Linked DNA regions of Homo sapiens. The protein of the gene in region 4 purifies or fractionates together with the protein of the main gene of each other region. This does not show direct contact. Each region holds a gene or a part of one and is shown on either strand. Other genes may lie near its edges.

Region 1 (3,566 bases), on a different chromosome or scaffold from region 4:
AGTTCACTATTTTGAAGTATCCAGTGCATTGGGTTCTAGTATATTCACGGAGTTGTGCAGTCATCACCACTAATTTCTGAACATTTTCATCACCCAAAAAGAAATCCCCTACCCATTAGCAGTCACTTCCCAGTGTTCCCCCACTCCGACAGCCTCTGACAACCTTAGACTAATGTACTTTTTATTTCTATGAATTTACCTACTCTGGAAAATTCATATAAATGGAATTGTAATACAATATGTGGCCTTTTGTGACTGGCTTCTTTGACTTGGCATAATGTTTTCAAGGTTTGTTTACATTGTGTCATGTATCACTACTTCATCCCTTTTTATTGTCTAATAATAGTCCATTGTATGGATATACCATATTTTTTTCATCCCTTCATCAGTTGATGGACATTTGGGTTGCTTCTCCTTTTTGACCGTTATGAGTAATGTTGATAAAAACATCTGGATACAACTTTTGGTTTAGATACATGTATTCATTTTTCTTAGGTGTGTGGTAGAATTCCTCGGTCATATGCTAACTATATTTAACCTTTTGAGAAACTGCCAGACTGTTTTCCAAAGTGGCTGTATGATTTTACATTCCCACCAGCAGTATATGAGCGTTTCATTTTCTCTAAATCCTCACCAACACTTAATATTATTGTTTTGATTATAGCTGTCCTAGTGGATGTGAAGTGGTATCTTATTGTGGTTTTGATTTGCATTTCCCTGATGACTAATGATGTTCGTCATCTTTTTATGTGTTTACTGGCCATTTGATAATCTTCTTTGGAAAAACACCTTTTCAGATTCTTTACCCATTTGTGTGTCTTTGGAGTAATATTCACATCTTTTGCCTATTTTTACTTGGGTTATTTATCATTTTATTATTAAGTTGTAAGTGTTCTTAATATATTCTAGATACAAGTCACTTATTGTATGTATGATTTGCAAATATTTTCCTTTTTCTTGGGTTGTCTTTTCACTTTCTTGATGGTGTCCTTGGAAATACAAGTTTTAAATTTTGATAAAGTCCAGTTTATTTTTTTATTTTGTCACTTTTGCCTTTGGTGTCTGCGTTCCAACACTAATTCTGTAGCATCAGCTGGGTGTCCCCCACTTCCGTTTAGTTCTGGCACTAGCTGCCCAGGGTTGGCATCAGATCCCACAAATTAAAGGACAAGGTCCCCACTAAGAATGCCATTAATTTGGACACCAGCTGTAAATGGGGTCCCCAGGCTACTCACACTTCTGCCCTGCGGACTACAAATTCAAGACTTCCCATAATCCCCTCAAGGCTGATAGTTCACTAGAATGACTCACATAACTCACTGAAAGTGCTCTACTTGCAATTACAGTTTTATTATAAGGGATACAACTCAGGAACAGCCAAACAAGAAGTAGACACATATGGCAAGGTCTGGGGCAAGGGAAGGATGCAGAACTTCCATGCCATCCTTGTGAAATGTGGGATACAACTCAGGAACAGCCAAACAGGAAGTAGACACATATGGCAAGGTCTGGGGCAAGGGAAGGATGCAGAACTTCCATGCCCATCCTTGTGAAATGTGGGCACATCACCTTCCCAGCACATCAGTTTTTGTTCACCAAGGATGCTCCACTGAGTATCGATGAAGAAAGTTTTTATGAGGTTTCATCACATGGGCATGATTGATTAAATCATTAGCTACATGGCTGAACTTGATCTCAAGTCCTCCTCCTTTCATGGAAGGTTGGCCTGACCAGTTTATTCCTCTAAACATATAGTTGGTCTTTCTAGTGATTAGCCCCCATCCTGAAGCTACCTAGGGGCCCATGTTGCCTCATTAATGTAACAAAGACACTCCTATTTCTCAGGAAATACCACGGGTTTTTGAAACTTTCTGCTGGGTATTATGTCCAAAGACCAGGTACTCTCTCTTATAAGATGCCACAGTATCACATCACTTTGCCGAATTTTGAGTTTATGTGTGTATCACACTCAGTGACAAGAAGGAGAGTAACTTGGGACATGTTATTCTGTTTTCTGTCTTTTAAAATATGAATATGACCCTGGTAAATTTATATAATCAAGTAGGAAGGTGCCCTGGCTGCTAATAATGTTATCTGTTCCACTGTTTTATGTTGCACTCTGGAAAGTACAGTCACAGAAGCATAGGAAAACCTGAGCAGTTTCTGCTGCAGAAATACTGAAAGGGTATGTCCTCAGGGTTGTCATTTATATCATAACATGCAAAAGGAAGAGTCCATGAATAAGTAACTTTATTTCTTCTAATAGGGATTATAAGGATTATACTTAGAGATTACCTCTTAGACATCCTTCATAGATTTAAAAGTTCATTTTGCTGCTTGCTCTAGAGAAGTACCTGAATACCTAATATTAAATATGTTAGAAAAACAGAAATTTTGTTCTTAGATGACATTTTTACTCAGTATTCATTACTTTTCTTTAGAACTTTATTTTTTCTTGATTATATTTTTCACTACCTGCATATAGTACATTTATCATTCTGATTACAGAATTTATCTTAAAGACTTGTATTATATTTTGCATTATAAATATTGAGGCTTTTATTCTCAAAATGTGTTATGGGAAAGAGAAACCAATTGTGCATAATTATTTGGCAAATGGTTCAGAAAGTCAACTTTAATGATATTTGGCTTTAAGTATGTATTGCTAATTACATAAAAGCAATACAAAAGAGGAGACAAAAATGATAAGATTTGGTTTCTACTTTCAAGGGAACCAATAATGTAGCTACATGTGGTCACAATGAATAATACAAGGAAAAGAATTTGAGGGGAGAGGGAATTTTGAGGTTTGGTTTGGGACCTTTTAAATCCCACCACTTGGGCCTTGGTGCAGGAAAGCAAGTTTAGTAGAATTATCTGATATTAGATGTCATTTCAGTGTTACTCATCTAACAAATAAAACTAATAAGCAGAAGTAGACAGGTTGAAGTGCAACCAGAGCCTGTTTTTATGAAAGCTGAGGGAGAGACTAGCAAAGTCTATGTAATGTAAAGATCAGAAAAACATAACATTGTCTACTGGAATTGGCAATTAAGGTATCAGTCTTTGAGAAGCATGTTAGTCTTCTTAAAGTGTTTTGGATCGAAAGGTAGAGATAAAAGCCAAATTTGAAAAGAGGATAATAATAAATAGGAGAACAGGCATCCACTGCAACAGGAGTTTCAACCTATGCTGTATTCAGTAACTATGAATTTGTCCCTAATGACTAATATGATCATTACATCTCTGATGCCACCTGAGACCTAGGCTTCCACTAACATAAGCAAATTTATACTAGCGTCTTATTTGGAATATTGACACTAATATTCCGAACACAATTCAGATCACTGTCCCCCTCAGTCACATTCAAAATGTGAGGCTCTTCATTCTCCCATGCACTTATCCCTACACCACTATGTGTTCCCCTCTCTGAGACCCAGTCTTTCATTCCTCCCCTCTCTACCAAACTTCTCCACATACCATTTGGCATTCTACATCTCCTGTCAGGGGGGAATGTCTTCAGTTTCCTTATCCCTCATTCCTTCAAATCTATCTTTACCTATACT
Region 2 (3,566 bases), on a different chromosome or scaffold from region 4:
CAAAATATTTTCATAGGCAAAGGATTAAAAACGATTTTAATTATACACATATGGTCACAATTTTGCCTTAAAAAGATTGTTGGGAAATGTACATAAGGCCGCTTGTAAATGTACATCGTGTTACTGTTATGTCTTATGTCCAGAGGAAAAAATGTTATCATACAGATTTGCTCTTACTTGGGAGTAGGCTATTCAAAAATACAGTACTCTTCTGTACAAAGAAAAAAGTCACATCACATTTAATAAGATGAAAAAAGCATTGGCCTCCATGGTAACCAAATATCTCAGTCCAATACTTTCTATTATGCACAATACCCTGACTTCAATTGAAAGTGATCCAAATTCTAGCAGGTCCATATTAACAGTCAACAACTATGTTATAAAACAAAATGATCTCACAATAATAAAAAGAAAGCTGGTTCATACTTCTGAAACCATATAAAGATAAAAAATTTTTAAAAAATCACTCTCGATTTGGAGAAATAAATTTACATTATACAACACTATATTGCCAGGTCAAAGAGGGCAGGGACGTAAATGTACACTAAAATGCAAATGTATCCCAAAGAGATAAAACAAATTCCATTTACAGCATGAAGGTTTACAAATGTACACCTGTACAACCAAGGAAAGCATCACTACTAAATTAGCAAGGCTTTTATAATAAACATTGAAACAAGATTTCCTTTCAAAGTGTAAACTTACATCTATTACTACACACACAATGCATATATTTATAGAAAGCAAAAAGAGCTATCTGAATATGTAATCATGCTTAAATGCTGAGCTATCAAATTCACTTTTCAGTGGCCCCTTTTCATCTCTATCTGGTTCCTACTTTCTGCCTCTATGAAAAAGCAAAATAAAGCTCAACACTTCCTCAACATGTCTGTAATTCTATAAGCAAAACAAAATACAAATTTCCACTCTTTCTCATTGCAAACCAAACTGAAAAGTTAATAAGTGACTTAACTTTTCATTTAGTGCACTTAATTGGAAGTGTCACCATGATTTTGTATTTAACTCTTACAACAATTACATATGTAAGTATATACAATATTTCTGTACATTGCCAGAGACATTTTAGGGCAGTAATTGTATTAAAACCACATCTACTGTAAATAATGTTAGGTTCTTTTCATCTCAAACCACTTTATTCTTGTCTACTTACTCGTTATTTGCATGATAGTTTGTGAATTATCAAAATACAACTTAACTCTTTTTAAAATATTAATAATATTTATGCAGTTGATTGTTAATCTGTTATAAAAGGTTTCACGCAAAGGAAAAAAATAAGGACTATAATTCTATATACATCTCTATAAACCTGTTGTGCTATGGGGTTGTAGACCTACCAGACTGTGAGCCAGTTTATTAAAAGAATACTGTACTTTTTCCTTTAAAAACTATTTTTGTGACTTTACAAGGTAAAAATTTACAAAATATGTGACAGCTTTTTATTTTTGATACAGTTACATCATATACAGGCATTCTGTGCTTTGCCAGCAATCCAATCTGATAGGTCTCCACTCAGGGCTGAATATAATTTATAATTCATCCCCCACCCCCCAAATATACACAAGAACCTTAAAAAATTTACAAATGGATGAATAAAGTCAATAAATAGTTTTGCTTTAAAAAAAAATTGAAGATTCATAGTTGAGTTGTGTTTTGATAATTCACACACAAAAAAATTCTTTTCACATGGTTAAATTATCTTCTTTCTCTTGCTCCTGTAATTTACAGCATTCCATTTGGTGGTCCTCCAATAGGTCCTAGGTCCGGGCTATTCTTCAAATAATACTTTTCCAACTTGGCCAGTATATGCTTCCCGTATGTGTATTTGCGCAAAGTAGTAATGTGAGGTCGAATCTGAAAAACAAATAATCTGCTTAGAAAATCTAAGTCATTTTAGTTTCTGATTTCTTAAAAAAGCACCCCCAATTCTGGGTAATTTAGAGGAATAACTGCAATTAAAAAAAATTTAAATCCAAAGAAAGCTACTTTTTGCAAAAGCAGTTGTGATCTGCTCAATCCCTCCAAACATCTGTTCTCGAAATTGTTCAATGAATAAAACACTACATCTAACTATGTCACGTGGAAACAGGCAGAGGCCCCAAACATAGCAAGAAAGTTACCCAGTAATTCCACATCCAGGAATTTATTCCACCAAAAAAATTACAAAAAGACTTTTGTACAAAGCACTACTTATAACAATTAAACAATTAGGGAGGATCCAAATATAATAAATATGATACCAGTTAAATAACTAACGCAGCTGTTAAAAATAAGATTGCAATTTTTTATATTCATTAGTTTACAGCAGAAACACTCAATTAAAAGATAGGTAGACACTTAGAGGCCAGTACTTTGGGACCAGACTGGGCAACATAGCGAGACCGCATCTCTACAAAATATAAACAAAACTAAAAGCATGCATGCCTGTAGTCTCAGCTACTAAGGAGACTAAAGTGGGAGGATGGCTTGAGCCAGGAAGTTGAGGCTAGAGTTAGCCGAGATTACACCACTGCACTCCAGCCTGTGCAACAGAGACCCTGTCTTGAAAGAAAAAGAAAGGAAAACTTACATCAAGTTGAAGAATGAATTTTAAAAATCAGAAGACCAAAACACTTTTACAGATGGAAGGAATCCTAAGATATCATTTTTCTCTCTATATGAGGAGACGACCAAAGGGGTTATGTAATTCATGTTTTGTAAATGAATTCATTAAGATCAAGAGTATTCAAAATAAGTGTTTTTTTCAGTGTTCTTTCAGTTTTCTTTATAAGTTTTCCTGCTGCAATTACTAATTTCTTAAAGAATTATTAGATTCTAGGAGGAGGATACAGAGAGGAAACAGCTTAAAGGGAATTTTATGAGTTAGTACTACCTCCCCACAACATAAACACAAAATTCTACTTAGAAAAATGTATTAGGTTAAAATCAATGTTCAACCCATGTATTATGGTAAATTAAATGTAGTTTGCCATCTGCATATGTGGATTCAACCACTGATCAAAAATATTTTTAAAAATGACAAAGTCTGTATTAAACAGATTTTTTACTTATCATTACAGTATGACTATTTACATAGCACTTACACTGTATTAGGTATCGTTAAGTAATCTTGAGATGAGTATATGGGAGGATATGTTTAGGTTATATGCAAATACTATACGCTATTTTATATAAGGGACTTGAGCATCCGTGAATTTTGGCACAGGAGTGGGTGGGTCCTGCAACCAATCCCCCAGTTACTGACGGGCAACTGTACAGTTAAATAAGATGAAGGCAAAAAGAACAATGTAAAACATAGGTAACAGATGAGAAATGAATATGATTCCTTAAGAATTTCTTTTGAATGACTGATTTATTTTTTGAGACAGGGTCTTGCTCTGTTGCCCAGACTGGAGTGCACTGGCATGAACACAGCCCACTGTAGCCTCAACCTCCGGGACTCAGGCGATCCTCCCATCTCAGCTGCCTGAGTAGCTGGGACCACAGGCATGTATCGTCATACCCAGCTAATTTTTAAATTTTTTGTAGAGATGGGGGTCTATGTTGTC
Region 3 (2,435 bases), on a different chromosome or scaffold from region 4:
AATACACCTGGGATCCTGGCTCCCAGCTTCCGATGACTTGTTTCATGAACACTAATGAACGGGCAGCACAGGGAGCAGGCATCCTCAGCTGCTCCTGGATGGCATCTGGATGGCGGGACATTTCATTTTTGCTTTTTTTTTTTTTTTTTGAGACAGAGTCTCACTGTTTCGCCCAGGCTGGAGTGCAGTGGCGTGAACTCTGCTCACTGCAAACTCTGCCTCCCGGGTTTATGCTATCCTCCTGCCTCAGCCTCCCAAGTAGCTGGGACTACAGGCGCCCGCCATCATGTCCGGCTAATTTTTTTGTATTTTTAGTACAGACAGGGTTTCACTGTGTTGGCCAGGATGGTCTCGATCTCCTGACCTCGTGATCCGCCTGCCTCGGCCTCCCAAAGTGCTGGGATTACAGGCGTGAGCCACCGTGCCCAGCCGGATGGCAGCATATTTTTTACATCATGTTGTTTTATTTTCAACTACTACAAAACAGAACAAGAATCAAATGTGATAATACAATTTTCTTTATTAAAAATAATTTACAGCATCAGTAACATATACACAATTGTCATCAACTGAACTTTGCCTCCAATATATTTCTATACAATACTTAACATTATTGAACTTAAAACTGTTACACTGTTTTGTTGGCTTTAAATAATAGACAATGATTTTTGTCTATTACTTAGTGATAGACAAAGTGATTACTTTGTTACTTAAGTGAGATATATGGTTTCATAGCCACATATTATGTGTAAAATTGATAGAAACGTCAGCAATATCACTCTTTAGGGGAAAAAACACTGAAAAGCCAAAGTCCACCCTCTTCTTCTCTCTTATTACTCCAACCAAACTAAGATAGGATAAACATCCAGTATCTTAGTATCTCCTCCTAAACCTAAAGACAAAAGAAAGGTGTCTTCTATTCAACCACAGAAAAATGTCAAATAATTTCTTCTCATCCTCTCACTCATCACTGTGAAAGCAAATGCACACGACCTTGTTACCATATATGCAGGCAACTATGATTCTGATTTAGGTCCTAGCTTTACTTTCCTTTAGTACAACTGTTGTTTGATTACCAACGAAAAACTAAGCAATCTGGCTAGAGGGATACTAGTACCTTCTTTCAAATGTCAGCATGGAGATAAAACAAAATAGTGATAACTGTCATCTTAGAAACTTTTTAGATATAATAATGGCAATTCAGTGGCTGGATGACATTTCCATTGATTCCATTGTATAAGAGTAGCAAAACCCCAAAATATGAAAATGGCAATGATATGTAGCATAATGTTTTCAAAGTATAAAAAAAACCCTGCTGTTGGTAGTGACCTTTGAAATTGTACTTTAAGCTTACAACACTGATTTGCTTTTCTTGTGTGTCTGACATTACACTTCCTTTTTTTTTTTTTTTTTTTGGTAACACAAAATTACCCAAGGTATAGTAAACAAAGAAGACACAGACAATAAAAACTAACAGATGCCACATTTTGCAAACATAGCATTTGGCTAGAGGCAGAATTATAAGGTATACATATTAAAACATACATCCAAGACTCTCCTCCTCAATTTGAAACCATGTTTATCAAGTTTTTACTTCATTGTATATAAGCCAAAAAATTAAGAGAACCTTGATTTGTTCCTGAAATACAAGATTTGCTTGTATTATTACTGGACCAGGTAGACTGGATATGTGAATGTTTAATTCATAGTTAGCTAGCTTTACCATCATCTCCTGAATCAGCTGCTGAGGATGCCTGTGCCTCTGCCCATAACTATATATAGAGTATGCTTTCAAAACAATATAGGCCGGGTGTGGTGGCTCACACCTGTAATCCCAGCACTTGTGGAGGCCAAGGCGGGCGGATCACGAGGTCAAGAGATTCAGATCATCTGGCCAACATGGTGAAACCCCATCTCTACTAAAACTACAAAAATTAGCTGGGCGTGGTGGTGCATGCTTGTAGTCCCAGCTACTCAGGAGGCTGAGGCAGGAGAATCCCCTGAACCCGGGAGGCGGAGGTTGCAGTGAGCCAAGATCGCGCCATTGCACTCCAGCCCAGCCACAGGGCAAGACTCCGTCTCAAAAAACAAAACAAAACAAAATAGATTTGTTTCCCCCTGCACAATCTGGAATTACCATTTCTTCAGAGCACATACAGGCATTTCATCTTTCAACCTGTAATTTCTCCTAACTCATGTTTTCATGTAAATTAAAAACACATGCACTAACAAATAAATATACAGCATATATCAAGAACACAATATAATTTGAAAGTGTCGAAGAAAATACTTATACAAAATTTAAATAAAGAAATCATTTTGTCGAACTCTAGTCCATCTTATTGTCTAAACACATATTTGCAAAATATTTTCAAAAGATTGTATGATTATGTGCAAAGTTCTTAGTGGTCTTCATCCACTGGTTTGGTAGTTTC
Region 4 (5,712 bases):
CTTTCTGTTCTCCTTGTTTCAAGGACAGGAACTACTGTGTCCCTCATTTCTGAGCTGCTTATCCAATAGCACAAATTGAAAAATGGAACTCCGGTACACTATTGACATTAAAAGAGTGTACGGGAGGGAGGTGGGAGAGAGAGAAAACATGGACATGCTTGTGTTTTCTTGTCTTAGCTGATTGGAATGCATGTGATAATGGGTACTCAGATTATGTAAGTGACACGAATTTTTCTAAAAATGCAAAATTGTGATTCTAAACTGAATGGCTAGTAAGTAAAGGGGAAAGTTTCCTCCTGGTGTGATTTTGTGGGAAATGTTATATGTAGGTGAAAACATGTTCTTGAGAAGGAAAAATTAATGTGTCCTTTCTTCTCTCCTTCCCTTCTCCTTCTGTTCCCTCTTTTCCAAATCTTTACTCAAATCTACCATAGGCATATCAAGGGGTGTAGGGTTTATTCGATTTGACAAGCGAATTGAGGCAGAAGAAGCTATCAAAGGCCTAAATGGCCAGAAACCTCCCGGTGCCACGGAGCCAATCACTGTAAAGTTTGCTAATAACCCAAGCCAAAAAACCAATCAGGCCATCCTTTCCCAGCTGTACCAGTCTCCAAACAGAAGGTATCCAGGACCGCTAGCTCAGCAGGCACAGCGTTTTAGGTAAGTCTGGTTTGGTTCTTGTGCCCAGCTACTAAACTGAAAGAGAATACTCAGGTTTACTGTCCAGTACTTTTATTGACAGGATCTCTGGTTTGCTTTTGTCAGTGTTGTTGGTTTTATTACTATTAATTTTTCATCTCCATGGGCACAGAGAGAATCTACTTGAGGAATAGTGTCTTTTGCTAATATTGAAGGTGGGGACCAAAGGACAGTAACCTACAGCAGTGATTCTTAACCAAGGGTGATTTTTGCCTCCCAGGGAACATTTGGCAATGTCTAGAGGTATTCATGTTGGCACAACCTGTGGGGGTGCTACTAGCATGTAATGCTAGAGGTCGGGGATGCTGCTAAGCTCCTACAGTGTACAGCATAGCCCCAGCAACCAGAAGTTACCTGGTCCAAAGCACCAATAATGCTGTGGTTGAGAAATTCTAATCTGTAGCTTTCTGGGGTTATCTGAATTGTTTCCAGGGCTTCAGATTTCCTTTTTTTTTTTTCTTAAAGGATTTTATTCTCATGTGTCAATTTTTAGGTCAAGCTGTTTCTGTTACTTCACTTTATAGTATGTGCACCATTAAGGGTATATAACCTATGTGACTACGTGAAGTTTCTACAAATGAGTTCCTCTCTTCCTTTTCAAAATTGTTTACAAACAGGTTGGCAGACTTTCTCTGTACAGTACCAGATAGTAAATATTTAACTTTATGGGTTATGGTCACTGTTGCATCTGTCTTGTTTTTGTTTTTAAACAACCTGTTAAAAATGTAAAAGCCATTCTTAGCTTATAGCCCATACAGCAACAGGTGGGAGGCAGTCTCCATTTGGCCTGTCGGTTGTAATTTACTGACCTCTCTGTAGTTCATAGAATGACCGTGGCTTTAGCCCAAAGAAGACACTCTATCTCACTGACAGGTGTACATATGCTAACTGTTTAAGTTTTATTCTGATCCTGGGATAACAAACCAGGAGTCATTCAAAAAATCTCTAATCTGCATGTGAGAAGAACAGTGACTTTAAGAAGTTAAGCAGAGCAGAGAGTTTTTGGTTTCATAAGCAAGTCATGCAGTTTTTATTTTCCAGGACATTTTTAAATATCCTTTTTGGCCATATGGTACACTATACCCAGAATGCTATCTAACCCCACACTGATTTTTAAAAATTATTTCCAAGTGCATATCAATTTTATTTATTTCATTCATGGGACAGAATAGTTAATTACCAAAAATATAATCACAAATATAACCTAATAAGATCAGGAGTTATGTTTTCTAGCTTAAATCTATGCATTTATTTTTTTCATTGGAATATTTGCAGTGCTGAAGAGAGTGGAGATAAAATCAGTTAAAAATAGCTCCTTTTAAAAAAATACTAAATTATGTTGCTTGAGATATGAGAAGGAAATTTGTTATGAATGCCACATTAAATTTCAACTTAAGTTGGCCTTTGCCGTGGGAGAAGAGGTGGTACTGTCAAAAGCATTGAGCCTTGTACTTCATGCTCTGCTGTGAGGAAAAGGCATTGGTATTAAAAAAAAAAAAAAAAAAAAAAAAAAAAAAAAAAAAAAAACCTTTGCCACCTTTGACTTCCCATGGTAGTGGTGATCAGACTAGTGTGGGAGATGCGTGGGGCTGCCTGATGCTTGCCTTTGTGGAGAAAGAAGTCTCACAAAGAAAGCCCTTTTTCAGCTCTGCACATAGGTTTCCTCTGTGACATCTTAAGTGAATAATATATGTATAAATATACTTTTTTAAATTGCAAACGTAGGATGAACAAGCCTGAAGGAATTTTACAGGTATTTCCTAGGCAGCTTGTCCAGTTAATTTCAGAGCTCTTTGGGGCCTTGAAAATGATCTCGAGTTTAGATAGAACAAAGTTCTTCATAATGTATTGGTTGATTTTTAACATTGTGAAGTTATAAAATGTTTGCTGTTAGTGGAAAGCTATATTAGCTACTTTTTTTTTCCAGATTGAAGCAATGATTTTGTTTGATAGTTATTAAGTAAAACAAAGTTCTTGGAATCAAGATTGAATTCTTAGGAAGATTGAGAAGACAGGATTTGGGAGAGTGCCTGATTATTGAAATGGCAAGGCTTGTAGGTGACTCAGGTGCTAGGTTGTTGATGGGTGTCAGCCCTTAGGTTTACCTAGCCTCCATCCCTGCAGGCTCTGTGCTTTTTATTTTTGGTTGAGTAAAGCTTTACAGGATGTTCTTATGGTCAAATTTAATTATCTTTTTCTGGCCCATTCTGTGTTTTTATCTTTTAGTACCATATGTTATCATTAACTTGAAAATTCTTTTTCCTTCACTCCTATAGAAAGACATTTTGGAAGAAGAGAATAAGAGATTGTCAGTTGTAAGGGAAACTTGGTTTCAGAAAATGGGAGAAATTGTTATTCTCTCTTCAGATTTTTAACTGTTGTCCCATTCACCCCATTTCTCATTCCTCCCATGATCCCTGTCCAGATAATAAAATATGAACGAGTTAGTGTGCTCAGAGATAGTGTTTGATCTAGATTGGGTGTGTTGGAAGAAATCAGATTTCAGGTTTAACCTGATGTTTGATGCTTTTCTTTAATACAGTATATTGAACCTGGTTGTCATTATCTTGATTTCCGCCCCACTCCCCCTTCTTCTTTCACCTGATAAAGAAACTTGAATTAAGGGCTTGCTTGTTTTGTTGGTATTTTGCTGTTTTCTGTAGTTCGAGTCTAAATCATCACACAGATATATTTTGTCCCTGATATTTGTGTTTTAATGCTCTTGCCTTGAGTTTTTGTCACCTTTCAGCAGACATGTAGAAAATTTCTCACTGTATTTTTATGTTCTCATAGTACCTTGGGAGTTGAGAGAGATTGAGCAATATAAGTTATATGTATTATGGTCAAGAATACTTTTAATAATCATAAAGTATGAGCCATATCTTTTATGGTCAAAAAGCTTAAAAATCCATGTAATAAGGGTTAAGTTTAAAGGTGGGTTTGTGAGGTTTATGGCTTAGTCAATCTATGAATAATCAGAGAATTGTTGTAATATGAGCACTGCTGGTCTAATACGCTTATTTAATTGACTGCAGTTTTCAAAATAGGACAAGCCTTATTTATTTGGATGGATGGTGTAATTCAAGCCCCTTAAGTATATTCTTGGGACATGATATCAGAATTAAACTTTAAGCCAAATTTTTTCATGTTCTTTTCTGTGAAACAGCTATAATTTTATTGAATATGATCTAGTGTAATGACCTGTGTGCCTGCTTCTATGAGCCTTTATGCATTTTTTAAAAAGCCTTTTAAATGAGCACTTGAGTTGCCTTTAAGGCATGACGTACTGGTTGCATTATCACAATTTCCTTTTGGAAGAAACCGGTATCAATCCCCTTGAATACTTTTCCTCTTTCTTAGAGGACAGATGATACCATCTAATTGAATAAGGCAGTAAGGCAGTAAGAAGATGATCTTGTTGTAGATAATTTCCAAGCAGTTCTCGGTTGGCGCTTTGGAGAGATTTTGATAATCATTATTTGTGGGATTCCGAGTATATTTTCTTACCCATCAATAACTTATCTTCCTATTTTTATTTCTGACTTTAATCGGGTTCACATTTCCCCTTACTTACATGTAGGCCTTCCCATAGTCCATCAGCTAATTTTTTTAGAAATTAGGCAGGTACTTTATTTTTATTTTCTACTTATGAACACCTAGCTTTAAAATAGGAATGATCTGATACATGGTTCTGTTCAAAATTTTGACAGGTTATAATTGGAGCTTTGGTCCTGTTGATAGAAAAATGTTTATACACATCTCTCTCCTATGTGCCTTTTTCATAAATTACATATGTACATGGGCGTGTGCTATTCATTAAATTATAAACTCTAATCAAACATAAAAAAGGATAAAGATGAGACAATCTGTATTAAATGTCTTGCTAATTACTATACTGGTTGGCTTCATTTTCCATGTACCTAATATCTTAATAAATGTCTTTTAAAGCAAGACCATAAAATAATTTCAGATATCTCATCTGACTTCATGTGATGCATGTTGGATTATCTTGTGTCTAACCTTATAATGTAGCTTGTACTAAGAGTAGGAGAAATAATCGGCTCTCCCTTTCCTTATTTACTTGTATTTCCCTTACTGGTACCATTCTTTACTCTGATTTACATTTGTAGTAATCTTTTTTTAAGTTACTTTTTCTTTAAATGGAGGTCATTTTAATTAAAGCAGGTTATCCAGTCTAATCCTCCATATCTGCTTGCTGTGTTATTTGTAAAATGGATTTTGTTCAGGCTAAAGAGCAGGAGAGAGTGCCACTCGCCGCCTCTCCCCTTCGATGATTGCTCAGTCTTCCCCCAGGGAGGCAGGTGATACACAGGACTGAGAAGGTACTGGGTTCAGTGCATCTATTAAATATAAGTAAAAAATACTTTATTTTAAATACATATTTATTTTATATTTTATTTTAAATATATATTTAATGGATACTTTAATATTTACCTTCCATATGTACTACGTTATCATCCACACCCCTCCCTGAGATATTCTGGAGGCAGCTAGCTTGCTCTCCATTTAAAAATTGACTTCCATTTATAAATGACCATAAATAAAAGATGGCTGGGCGTGGTGGCTCACTCCTGTAATCCCAGCACTTTGGGAGGCCAAGGCGGGTGGATCACGAGGTCAGGAGATCGAGACCATCATGGCTAAATGGTGAAACCCCGTCTCTACTAAAAATACAAAAAAAATTAGCCGGACGTGGTGGTTGGGTGCCTGTAGTCCCAGCTACTCGAGAGGCTGGGGCCAGAGAATGGTGTGAACCCGGGAGGCAGAGTTTGCAGTGAGCCGAGATCACGCCACTGCACTCCAGCCTGGGTGACAGAGCGAGACTTCGTCTCAAAAATAAATAAATAAAATAAAAAGATGTCCTTGAGCAGTGGACAGACCCAGCAGACATATTTCTAGGGGCTTGTTGTAGTAGTCCTTGTGTTTGAGCTGCTGCACTATTTTCTCTTACAACTGCCTGTGTTACAGTTTGCCAACTGCTACTGGATTTGG

The links. Proteins that work in one complex are often made in the same cells at the same time.
Region 1: the proteins of ELAVL2 (region 4) and RO60 purify together in Homo sapiens (co-immunoprecipitation; 3 studies listed by BioGRID and IntAct, with this or other methods). This does not show direct contact.
Region 2: the proteins of ELAVL2 (region 4) and PUM2 purify together in Homo sapiens (co-immunoprecipitation; 3 studies listed by BioGRID and IntAct, with this or other methods). This does not show direct contact.
Region 3: the proteins of ELAVL2 (region 4) and IREB2 purify together in Homo sapiens (affinity purification with mass spectrometry; 2 studies listed by BioGRID and IntAct, with this or other methods). This does not show direct contact.

The regions. Positions count from the first base shown.
Region 1 is NC_000001.11:193,062,546-193,066,111, forward strand, and holds part of RO60 (RNA-binding protein RO60), read left to right. Parts: intron 1-3,566. UniProt on the Homo sapiens protein: RNA-binding protein that binds to misfolded non-coding RNAs, pre-5S rRNA, and several small cytoplasmic RNA molecules known as Y RNAs.
Region 2 is NC_000002.12:20,249,845-20,253,410, forward strand, and holds part of PUM2 (pumilio homolog 2), read right to left. Parts: intron 1,873-3,566; coding exon 1,741-1,872; 3' UTR 1-1,740. UniProt on the Homo sapiens protein: Sequence-specific RNA-binding protein that acts as a post-transcriptional repressor by binding the 3'-UTR of mRNA targets.
Region 3 is NC_000015.10:78,499,519-78,501,953, reverse strand, and holds the end of IREB2 (iron-responsive element-binding protein 2), read right to left. Parts: 3' UTR 501-2,435; downstream 1-500. UniProt on the Homo sapiens protein: RNA-binding protein that binds to iron-responsive elements (IRES), which are stem-loop structures found in the 5'-UTR of ferritin, and delta aminolevulinic acid synthase mRNAs, and in the 3'-UTR of transferrin receptor mRNA.
Region 4 is NC_000009.12:23,696,327-23,702,038, reverse strand, and holds part of ELAVL2 (ELAV-like protein 2), read left to right. Parts: intron 1-434; coding exon 435-660; intron 661-5,712.